Homo sapiens: one gene and its partners. The protein of the gene in region 1 purifies or fractionates together with the protein of each later gene. This does not show direct contact. Each region holds a gene or a part of one and is shown in the gene's direction. Other genes may lie near its edges. The genes, in order: ACKR5, FASTKD1 and LMBRD2.

Region 1 (3,754 bases):
ATTACAGGCATGCACCACCACGCCTGGAATTTTTGCATTTTTAGTAGAGACAAGGTTTTACCATGTTGGCCAGGCTGGTCTCGAATTCCTGACCTCAGGTGATACACCTGTCTCAGCCTCCCAAAGTGCCAAGATTACAAGCATGAGCCACCTAGCCTAGCCCATTATTTTTTTTTTTTTTTTTTTTTTTTAGGAGATGGGATCTAGCTCTCTAGATCCCATCACCCAGGCTTCAGTGCAGCAGGGTGATCATGGCTCACTGCAGCCTTGAATTCCTAGTCTCAAGCGATCCTCCCACCTCGGCCTCCCAAATACAGACTGTACCACCACAACTGGCTATTTTATTTTTTGTAGAGATGGGGGTCTCATCTTGTTGCCCAGGCTGGTCTCAAACTCCTGGGCTCAAGCAGTCTTCCCACTTCGGCCTCCCAAAATGCTGGGATTACTGGTGTGAGCTACTGCACCGGCCATGATAGATTTTGTGATCTTGGAGTGATCTGATATGTAAGTGGAAGGTTTAAGAAAACTACAAAACTACAAAATGAAAAATATTCCCTTCCATGGAGATAAATGGTGCTGATGGTTGCACAGCAGTGTAAATGCACTTAGCGCCACTGAATTGTACACTTAAAAATGGTTAACGTGGTAAACCTTACATATATTTTACCATAATAAAAGAATCAGTGAGCAAACTTTTAAAAAATGTTCTCTTTGAGTGGATAAAGAAAATGTGGTGTGTGTGTGTGTATATATATATATATATATATGGGAATATTACTCAGCCATGAAAGGAAATGAAGTACGGATGCATGCTCCAAAGTGAATGAACCTTGAAAACATGCTAAGTGGAAAAAAAAAAACACAGACACTGAATGTCACATATGATATGGTTCCCTTTCTATTAAGTATCCAGAATAGGTAAATCCACAGGGACAGGAAGCAGAAGGTTGGTGGTGGGGGGAATAGGATTGACTGCTTAATGGTTATGGGGTTTTCTTTGCGGGTAATGAAGATGTTTAGCACGTAGACAGAGGTGGTGTTTGCACAATGTGCATGTCTAAATGCCATTAAATCACACATTTTAAAATGGTTAATTTTATGCTATGGGAATTTCACCTCGACTTAATATATACTCAATCCCGTCCAGCCGACACACCTTTGGCTCAGGCCTAGGCCACTCTGCCATCTGCCAAGTGTGGCTTGTGTAACAGACAACTTCTCTGGGCCTCAAAGAGGGTGAAGAAATCCATCCTCCCCACAGGGGTATCTCCAGAATCCAACGAGATGAAGTGAGGTGAAAGCGCTCTGAAGGGCAGGAAGCTCTGCTGACACAAAATGTTTACCCATAACACGTGGCTTAGAGTCCCTTACCCTCTAGCTTGGCGGGAGAGAGAAGTCTGCTCTCCCTACCCCACGCCCCATCCCCTGCTCATCCCCTGCCAGCCACCCACCACACCCTTCACGCAGAGAAGTATAGAGCCACAGGGGGAGGGCGCCATTCTCTCTCTCCCTCCCTACTCAGGAATCTCCCTGAAGCTTTGACAAAGCCCCCTTGACACCCCGCATTCAATCTTATTTTTATTTTTTTTTATTAACTCTGTCACCTAGGCTGGAGTGCAGTGACCTGATCTCAGCTCACTGCAACCTCCGCCTCCTGGGCTCAAGCGATTCTCCTGCCTCAGCCTCTCAAAATGCTGGAATTACAGGCGTGAGCCACCATGCCCAGCCATTCAATCTTTTCTTTCCCAGATTCTCACCTCCAATCACAAGATGAAGGCAGGGAGCTCACAGCCCTGTGAGGGGCTGGGGAGAATGGCAGGGGTGGGCCAGAGTTATTAAAAGCCCAACTGATGTTCAGATTTATTTTGACCCTCCCCTATACCCCCACATCCAATTTCACTCTAGTAGGAATCAAGACAGGGGAGAGAGGGATTCCAAGCTGACTTAGGGAGAGGAAAATACATACATACGTAAAGCATTTGCCACAGGCCCCACCTGAGCTAAGCACTTTCCCTCCCTCAACAGCTCCTTTAATTCTCAAAGCATCCCTTTTAGTAGATAATAGACCCCACTTTGCAGAGGAGAGCACTGAGGCTGAGGAAAGAGGTAAATTCATTCAGCGGGTGAGGGAGGAGCTGGGATTTTAATGCTGGCAGTATGACCTCCCCGCCACTGGCACACCGGGTCTTTTGCTGGGACATCCCCTGTAACCGGATTGGGGGAATGCAGGAAAAACCCCATCCCTCCCTACAGAGCCTCAGCAGTGACAGCTACTTCCCGGATGAGAAGGGCGGCCGTGAAGCCAGCAGGGAAGCCAGCCCCACAGCCAAGGGCCCCCCAGCCTCCTCACAGCTCCCCATAGCCTGGACCTGCCGGCCCTCCCTCCAGGACCGAGGGGCTCCCAAGGGAAACTCAGGTGAGTGTCGCCCTCTCCCAGGGAAGATGGGAATCAGGGCTTGGAGACAACTGGCTATCCTGCATGATCCACAGGTTTTCCTAGGGATGAATCAGATTGTGTGGTGTGCGTGTGTGTGTGTGTGTTCCACACTCACGGTCCAAATAACAAGACAGAAAAAGAGCAATAAAGATCTGTGCAAAAGGGCTGAGGAATGAAGTGCCAGGAGAGAGGTGGAGGTTGGAGACCACCTAGGAATGGTGGGTGTGGGGGGATTGAGGGGGTTGTTGAGGGGGAACTGGCTGGGGGTGGGGAGAAATGTTGGTGGACACCAACAGTCCTGGCCTCTTCCAGCTGAAACCCCTTAAGAAAGTATCTCTGCTCTTGGGTCAGAGCTAGCAAGTGAGTTGTGTATTATTTATTCACAGTTTGAAAGCTAAACTTCCCTTTCTTGCCTTAGCCCCAGAATCTTTCCCCAAAGCCCCCGACTCCCTCTGGCCTCTACCTTGAGGACACAAGGCTCTCGAGGTCTGCTTTCCCTTCCAACCCTCCCTTCATCCCAATAGGCGTGTGCTGGTCCCAATGTCAGTGAAACCCAGCTGGGGGCCTGGCCCCTCGGAGGGGGTCACCGCAGTGCCTACCAGTGACCTTGGAGAGATCCACAACTGGACCGAGCTGCTTGACCTCTTCAACCACACTTTGTCTGAGTGCCACGTGGAGCTCAGCCAGAGCACCAAGCGCGTGGTCCTCTTTGCCCTCTACCTGGCCATGTTTGTGGTTGGGCTGGTGGAGAACCTCCTGGTGATATGCGTCAACTGGCGCGGCTCAGGCCGGGCAGGGCTGATGAACCTCTACATCCTCAACATGGCCATCGCGGACCTGGGCATTGTCCTGTCTCTGCCCGTGTGGATGCTGGAGGTCACGCTGGACTACACCTGGCTCTGGGGCAGCTTCTCCTGCCGCTTCACTCACTACTTCTACTTTGTCAACATGTATAGCAGCATCTTCTTCCTGGTGTGCCTCAGTGTCGACCGCTATGTCACCCTCACCAGCGCCTCCCCCTCCTGGCAGCGTTACCAGCACCGAGTGCGGCGGGCCATGTGTGCAGGCATCTGGGTCCTCTCGGCCATCATCCCGCTGCCTGAGGTGGTCCACATCCAGCTGGTGGAGGGCCCTGAGCCCATGTGCCTCTTCATGGCACCTTTTGAAACGTACAGCACCTGGGCCCTGGCGGTGGCCCTGTCCACCACCATCCTGGGCTTCCTGCTGCCCTTCCCTCTCATCACAGTCTTCAATGTGCTGACAGCCTGCCGGCTGCGGCAGCCAGGACAACCCAAGAGCCGGCGCCACTGCCTGCTG
Region 2 (3,754 bases), on another chromosome or scaffold:
GTTAAGTAGAAGAACTAGATATCTCTATCTCAAAGATGAACAAAATGGTAAAAATGAAAGGAAGCAGACTTTAACTTGGTATAATGAGAATTATTGACTGCTTTCTGAAGAAGTAATGTTGAGGCAGAGGCTGAGTATTCAGATGATAGATGTGTGTGATTTTTGCACTGGGCAGGAAGGTGAACTAGATAATCATTAATGCTCTCATCTTGTGCTATAAAACACAACTTTCCTTTGATTTTATGTTAATCAGGATTGAGTTGGGTATGAGTGACAAAAATCCATAAATTGGCTGGGCACAGTGGCTCATGCTCATACACATAGTCTCAGCACTTTGGGAGGCTGAGGTGGAAGGATAGCTTGAGCTCAGGAGTTTGAGACCAGCCTGGGCAATGTAGTTAGACCCTGTCTCTAAATAAATAAATAAACAAATAATAAATAAATAAATAAATAAATAAATAGCAGGCATGGTGGTATGCCCCTCTAGTCCCATTGCTCAGGAGTTTGAGACCAGCCTGGGCAATATAGTAAGACCCTGTCTCTAAATAAATAAATAATTATCAGGCATGGTGGCATGCCCCTGTAGTCCCATTAGGAGGCTGAGGTGGGAGAATCTCTTGAACCCAGGAGTTGAGTCTACAGTGAGTTACAGTCACGCTACTGCACTCTAGCCTCAGTGACAGAGCAAGACTCTGTCTCTAAAACAAAACAAAACAAAACAAAACAAAAAACAAACATTGAAGCTGGGCATGGTAGTGCAAGCCTGTAATCCTAGCTACTTTGAGAGACAGAGGTAGGAGGATCACTTGAGCCCAGAAGTTTGATACCAGCCTGGGCAATATAGTGAGAAGCCATCTCTTTTTAATATTTTTCTTTTTTTCTTCAGAACAATATGAATATAACCCCATCTCTTAAAAAAAAATTACATGAGACATGCTTAACATAGAAAAACTAGAAAAGGAAGATAACAAAAAAGAAAAATTACCCATGATATAGCCGCTGTTTGCTTTTGGTGTCTGTTTTCCTAACTTAAAAAAAAAAAAGACAAAAAGGTTTTCTTCTGTAGTGTTTGTGTTTTAGTCCTTTTCTGCTGCTACAACAAAATACCTGAGACTGGTTAATTTATAAACAACAGAAATTTGGCCGGGCGCAGTGGCACACGCCTGTAATCCCAGCACTTTGGGAGACAGAGGCGGGCGGATTACCTGAGGTTGGGAGTTCGAGATCAGCCTGGCTAACATGGTGAAACCCCATCTCTACTAAATATACAAAATTAGCTGGGCGTGGTGGCGCACGCCTGTAATCCCAGCTACTCCTGAGGCTGAGGCAGGAGAATCGCTTGAACCCGGGAGACGGAGGTTGCAGTGAGCCGGGATCGTGCCACTGCACTCCAACCTGAGCGACAGTGAGACTCTGTATCAAAAAAAAAAAAAAAAGAAAAAAAAAAAACAACAGAAATTTATTTTTCACAGTTCTGGAGGCTAGGAAGTCCAAGCTCGAGATACCAACAGGTTTGGTATCTACTAAGGACCTAGCCTCTGCTTCCAAGATGGTACTTTGAATGCTGTGTCCTCCCATGGCAGAAGGGACAGGAAGGCAACAGAGGATGCTCTTTTATAGGGTCACTAATCTTATTAATGAGGGCTCTGCCCTCATGACTTAATCGTCTCCTAAAGGTTCTGCCTCTTTTTTTTTTTTTTTTTTTTTTTTTTTTTTGAGAAAGGGTCTTGTTCTGTCACCCAGGTTGGAGTGCAGTGCAGGAGTGCAGTGGCATGATCACGGTTCATTGCAACCTCTGCCTCCAGAGCTCAAGTGATTCTCCCACCTCAGCCTCCTGAGTAGCTGGGTCTACAGGCACACACCACCACACCAGGCTAATTTTTGTGTTTTTTGTAGAGATGGGGTTTCACCATGTTGCACAGGCTGGTCTTAAACTCCTGAGCTCAAGCAGTCCTCCTGCCTCTGCCTCCTAAAGTGCTAGGATAACAGGTGTGAGCTACCACGCCTGGCCTAAGGTCCCACTATTATTATTAACACATTGATGATTATGTTTCAACAGATGAATTTTGGGGGACACATTTAGATCATAGCAGTTTATAACTTTATATGTTGTGAATATTTTTCTATGCCAACAGATATGCTTATACAACATCTTTTTTAGTTACTGCATATTTCATTGAGTATGCTATGATTTAATCAATCTGTAAGATTTTTTTGCTGGTATGTCCATCTGTCAAACAATGCTGCAATTTCATATAACAACAATAATAGGTTTATTTTTATATATTGCTTATTATGTGTTAGACACCATTTTAAGTACTTCGTAAGTACTTGTGTGTGTGTATGCATATAGTAAACTTATATCCCTATGAAGTATGTAAATTATTTGCAGATGAGGAGACTAAAGTCCACAAACATTATTGATTGCCCAAGGTTATATACCTGGCAAATGACAGAGCCAGGATTTGAGCTTGGCATTCTGGCTCTAGAATTCATTCTCTTAATGAATTCTATATATTTCATCTTTCATAATTAATTTAAAGATGGTTCAGTGCCTGAGTTTTTCACCAGAGTTCCATCTGATTCTTTTCAAATCACAGACATCATTTCAGGAAGTATATTTAAAAGATAAGAATGACTTAAAAAACATAACAACAATATCATCTTTATCATCCTATAACCATTAATAATAATTTCTTAATATCTTTTAAGAAATGTTCAGCAATATGGGAAATTTAACGTAAGTAGACAGATGGGAAATTTTAGATAAAATTTAACATTTTATTGAAATGTTAGATTTGGCATACTATAATGAACTCAATGATCAAGGATTGAAGGTAGTAGAATTATGGGAAATGTCACATAAGTAGAGAGATATGGGAAATTTTAGATAAAATTGAACATTTATGGGAATTATGGGAAATGTAACATAAGTAGGGAGATATGGGAAATTTTAGATAAAATTTAACATTTTATCGAAATGTTAGATTTGGCCTACTATAATGAACTCAATGGTGAAGGATTGAAGGCAGTGGAACCTATTCCTCATACGTCTCATGCACTGCACCCCTATACCTTTGCTTTTCCTGTTTTAAGTGTCTTTTATGTTTATTTTATAGTTTGTCCAAATTGGGATCTTAACATTCCACTTGGTTGGTTTGCAGTTTTTGGTTCAACTTTTCCTTTCCTACTTCTTTTTTTAACTTAAAATTTGAGAATAAGTTTTTTTTTTCCACATTTCGAACTTTTCTAATTGCAGCCCTGTGATAACATTTAAAATGTCATCTGATAGTTTTTAATGTTTTTACTGTAAACCTGGGTTTGCTGTAAACCATTAGTGATATCTAGAGATTTGATTAGATTTTAGGTTTTTTTTTTAGGTTTTTCTTTTTGGCCAAAAACTTCATAAGTGGCTTGTACTTCTTTCTGCATCCTCTCAGGAGGCACACAAGGCTGGTTGTCTTTTTCTTTTTCTTTCTTTCCTTTTTTTTTTTTTTGTCTGGCTCTGCTGCCTAGGCTGAGGTGCAGTGGCACAAGCATGGCTTACTGCAGCCTTGACCTCCTAGGTTCAAGGGATCCGCCCACCTCAGCCTCCTCAGCCGGAGTAGCTACCACTACACCTGGCTTATTTTTTAAGTTTTTTGTAGAGATTGGGTTTTGCCATGTTGCCCAGGCTGGTCTGGAACTCCTGAGCTCAAGCAATCTGCCTGCCTCGGCCTCCCAAAATGCTGGGATTACAGGTGTGAGCCACTGT
Region 3 (3,754 bases), on another chromosome or scaffold:
ATAATGAAGAAATATTTCTGTAATAAGGACATGTTTAGCTGAGTATTTAAGAAGGAATAGTACCTAGCCAGGTGAAGGGTATTTTAATTAGAAGGGAGACTAAGTGCAGGACGTTGTGGCATGAGAGAACCTTTGGGAAAATGCATGTTTTTCTCTAACTAAAGCCTAAGCATGGGGAGGCTAATAAGAGAGGAGGCCACAGAGTAGTTGGGGAACAGATATTGTCATTCTCCAATGTTTGGATTTGGGGCCAGGCGCGGTGGCTTATGCCTGTGAAGCTGAGGTGGGTGGATCACCTAAGGTTAGGAGTTCGAGACCAGCCTGGCCAACATGGTGAAACGCCATCTCTACTAAAAATACAAAAAGTAGCTGGGCATGGTGGTATGCACCTGTAATCCCAGCTACTCAGGAGGCTGAAATGGGAGAATTACTTGAACTCAGGAGGAGGAGGTTGTAGTGAGCCGAGATCATGTCACTGCACTCCAGCCTGGGCAACAGAGCAAGACTCCATCAAAAAAAAAAAAAAAAAAAACGAAAGAAAAAAAAGTTGGGATTTTGACCTAAAGGTAAGATTTCAATCTGGGAAGAAGCATGATAAGATTTTTGGTTTAGAAAGATGAATTTGATGGCAGTATAAAGCATAATTCTTGGGGAAGTGAGACTAGAAACCATTTCAGAGACTGTTTGGTAATACAGTCAAGAAATGATTATGGTCTAAAATAAGGCAGTTGTCCTGGAGATGAAGAGAAAAGGATTTATTTGAAGGACTTTAGGGTATAATAAATAGGAAAGGGCTAAAGGCTTAGTTAAAACTAGGAAATAGGATTCTGTAAAGGGATTTGGATGCTTGCTTACCATAGAGTGGAAGAAGTTTACAGAATAGAAAGACCTGGCAAGACGGGAGAGTGCTTAAAAGAAGAGGAGTCACAAAGTCATAGGATGATGAATTAGAGAGAATCTAGCATGTATTGGGCAATTGCGATTTGCTGAATGAGTGAGAGAAAAGATGAAGAGATTTGCATTTGGGACAGAGTCCAAGCTTACAAAAATGTAAATATGATAGAATTGGCTTGCATTAAGTTTTCAGAAAGAACTATAGCATAAAGCTGTTGTAAATCTACTTGGACTCCTCTGAACAACATTGTGAAAATTTGGTTTGTTTATATAGAAATCCCTATCCACATAGAGAAGGGAGAGTTAGTTTTCTTTATCTGCTGTCTGGTATGATAATCATTAGCCACACGTGGCTATTGAGCACTTGCAACATGTTGAAATGGTAATATTTTGGATATATTGTGTTTAAATATATTAAAATTAATTTCACTTGTTTCTTTTTACTTTTTAATATAGCTACTAGAAAATTTCTAATTAAATATCGGCTAGTGCCGATGTTGGCTAGTGCTACCCATACTCTTGCCTTATGGTAAAAAGACACACCTTTTTTTAAGAGTTTGAGCTGATTACACATTAAAGTCCTAGCCAAGAAATGAGGTTTACTGTAAAACCAACTCAAACTACTTTTGTTAATAAACAGTTTCACCATTGTGATACCATAGTTAAATGTTAATTCTGAGTTACACTAATGAAATGTTTGCACTGTGTCTGCTTCTGAGCTTAGAGAGCTTCTTAGCTAACTACAAGCCTAGAGAACTTTTCCTTGCTATATTCTATTATACTGCTTATAATTTTAATCTGATTTTAAGGAACCATGTAGTTATCTTTTCTTATGTTCTTTGTCTTCAGATTCCTTGGAATTTTGATTTTTCTTTCTGTACCTCCATAGACTGTGACCCATAAGTTAAAAGACAGTAGGGAAGTAGACATTTTTCCCCCTTCCTTTGCAGCTGCATTCAAATATACCAGGGCTAATAACAGGACTGAAAGGGACCGGATAGAACTTCTCCAAGATGCAGAACCTTTGGATTTTAATGCAGAAACATTCACTGATGATCCTCTTGAATCTGAATCAGGAAGGTAAGTTCTGGCTGTGACATTTTAGCTCTAGCATTCCTCTACACTTTTAATAACACATTGACTTGACAAGATTGAAAATAAGTAAGTAAAGGTGAAAGTAAACAAGTGATAAGTAAAGGAAAATGTTCATTTTCACTAACAATAAAAAATATATTAAGTAACTTTTGATACCTTTTTAGACTTTCTAATGCTTTTATATCATCCAGTAATGGTAACTAAAATTGTTATCTTCATACAATACTAGTGGTATTATAAATAAGAAAGAATAATTGAAATATATAGCAAAGGATCACAACAATATTTATATGCCTATTTCTGATTGTCCCATTTGTGAAATTTATTATATTTAGTAACTGCTGCATAGCAGTGTCTAGATGCCAGACACTATTCTAAGTCCTTTAGCAAAAATATTGTAATTGTATGGTTGCAAATTCAGCTGGATTTAAATCCAGAGAGGCTCAGTAAAGTGCCCAGAGTCACACAACTTGTAAATGGCAAGTCAGGCATTCAAAGTCCAGTATTCTGGCTACAGAGTCTGTACTTTTAGCCATTATGCTATAAGCACATAATTAAATAAAAGCAAAATATCATGTGCACGAAAATGTTTACTATAGTATTGCCTATATGCAGTAAAAACCTAGGTTATATTTATTTGCAACAATTGAGAGTGGTTATTGAATTGATTAATCTCCCAGATGTGTCTTACATCCCCTGCCCCCTTCTTTTTACATCTCTCACTCTGTCATGCATATATTCTAGGGTCTAAAACCGTTGCTGGTTGATTTATAATTAAGTCCTTTTGGATAATATACTTGGAGGGTAAGTTTCTGCTTTCAGCTACTGACTAGATTTTACAGTACTTACAAATTATATGGCCACTCCCTTTTAATGTATTCTTGTTTTCCTCTCTTCCTTTATTATTTTTGATGCCTCAGATCATTTCTTTATGTTCCCTTTTTAGGTATCAGCCTGGTGGACGATATCTCTCGATGTCTCGCAGTGACATATTTAATGATGTTTAAAGTCTGAAAAAGTTTGTGGGACCACTAACCAAGGTCAACACATCAGTTCAGTCTTGATGAACATCTGTGTACCCTAGAATTTCCTCTATACACAGTGAAAAGTGTCAAGATAACAAAAAAGGCACTGAGAATTAATTATATCTTAGGAATAATAGTTTAATGTGCATTGAATAGAGTATCACCTTTTTCAACAAGATTTATTACATATCATTTCCTAAGCATCTGCCTTAGAAATACAGTTACAGTGGAAGGACTTTAAGAAAGATCAACATATGTTAAGAACATGCAGTTCAGTTTGTTTCAGATTAATTTTTTTTCAAGAGAGTTATTTTAAAGATTCAAGGAAGCCATAAGTCATACTAAATAATATTATATACAGTTTTGTTATTGTGACTTACATTTTTGTTACTTCTAAAAAGTATATTCAACCTGTATTTCCCAAAGAAATGTAAGTGAATGGAGACCTCAAATAATAACTGTATTCATAAAACTCGTGTCTTAAAACAAGGCTTACTTACTAGACATAACTGAATGTAAAAAGTGCTTTTTCAAATCTGTTTGCAAACTCGTGGGGGATTTTTGCATGTATAAGATTAAGATTATACTTCAAGTGATGCGTGTCTGTGTATTTAGCATGTGTACTATAATCAGGTGATATAGTATTCCTTCAGTCTTTGTAGTAACTGGATTTTTTTATGCTTCTGGTATTGCTTTATAAAAGATTTTCATTTCAGAAAGCTATGTTCACATTTATCATT

The links.
Region 2: the proteins of ACKR5 (region 1) and FASTKD1 purify together in Homo sapiens (co-immunoprecipitation; 2 studies listed by BioGRID and IntAct, with this or other methods). This does not show direct contact.
Region 3: the proteins of ACKR5 (region 1) and LMBRD2 purify together in Homo sapiens (co-immunoprecipitation; 2 studies listed by BioGRID and IntAct, with this or other methods). This does not show direct contact.

Annotation. Positions count from the first base shown.
Region 1 is NC_000012.12:56,992,233-56,995,986, forward strand, and holds the start of ACKR5 (G-protein coupled receptor 182), read left to right. Parts: upstream 1-2,259; 5' UTR 2,260-2,416; intron 2,417-2,961; 5' UTR 2,962-2,977; coding exon 2,978-3,754. UniProt on the Homo sapiens protein: Orphan receptor.
Region 2 is NC_000002.12:169,532,146-169,535,899, reverse strand, and holds part of FASTKD1 (FAST kinase domain-containing protein 1, mitochondrial), read left to right. Parts: intron 1-3,754. UniProt on the Homo sapiens protein: Involved in the down-regulation of mitochondrial MT-ND3 mRNA levels which leads to decreased respiratory complex I abundance and activity.
Region 3 is NC_000005.10:36,103,288-36,107,041, reverse strand, and holds part of LMBRD2 (G-protein coupled receptor-associated protein LMBRD2), read left to right. Parts: intron 1-1,844; coding exon 1,845-1,974; intron 1,975-2,935; coding exon 2,936-2,996; 3' UTR 2,997-3,754. UniProt on the Homo sapiens protein: Recruited to ligand-activated beta-2 adrenergic receptor/ADRB2, it negatively regulates the adrenergic receptor signaling pathway. May also regulate other G-protein coupled receptors including type-1 angiotensin II receptor/AGTR1.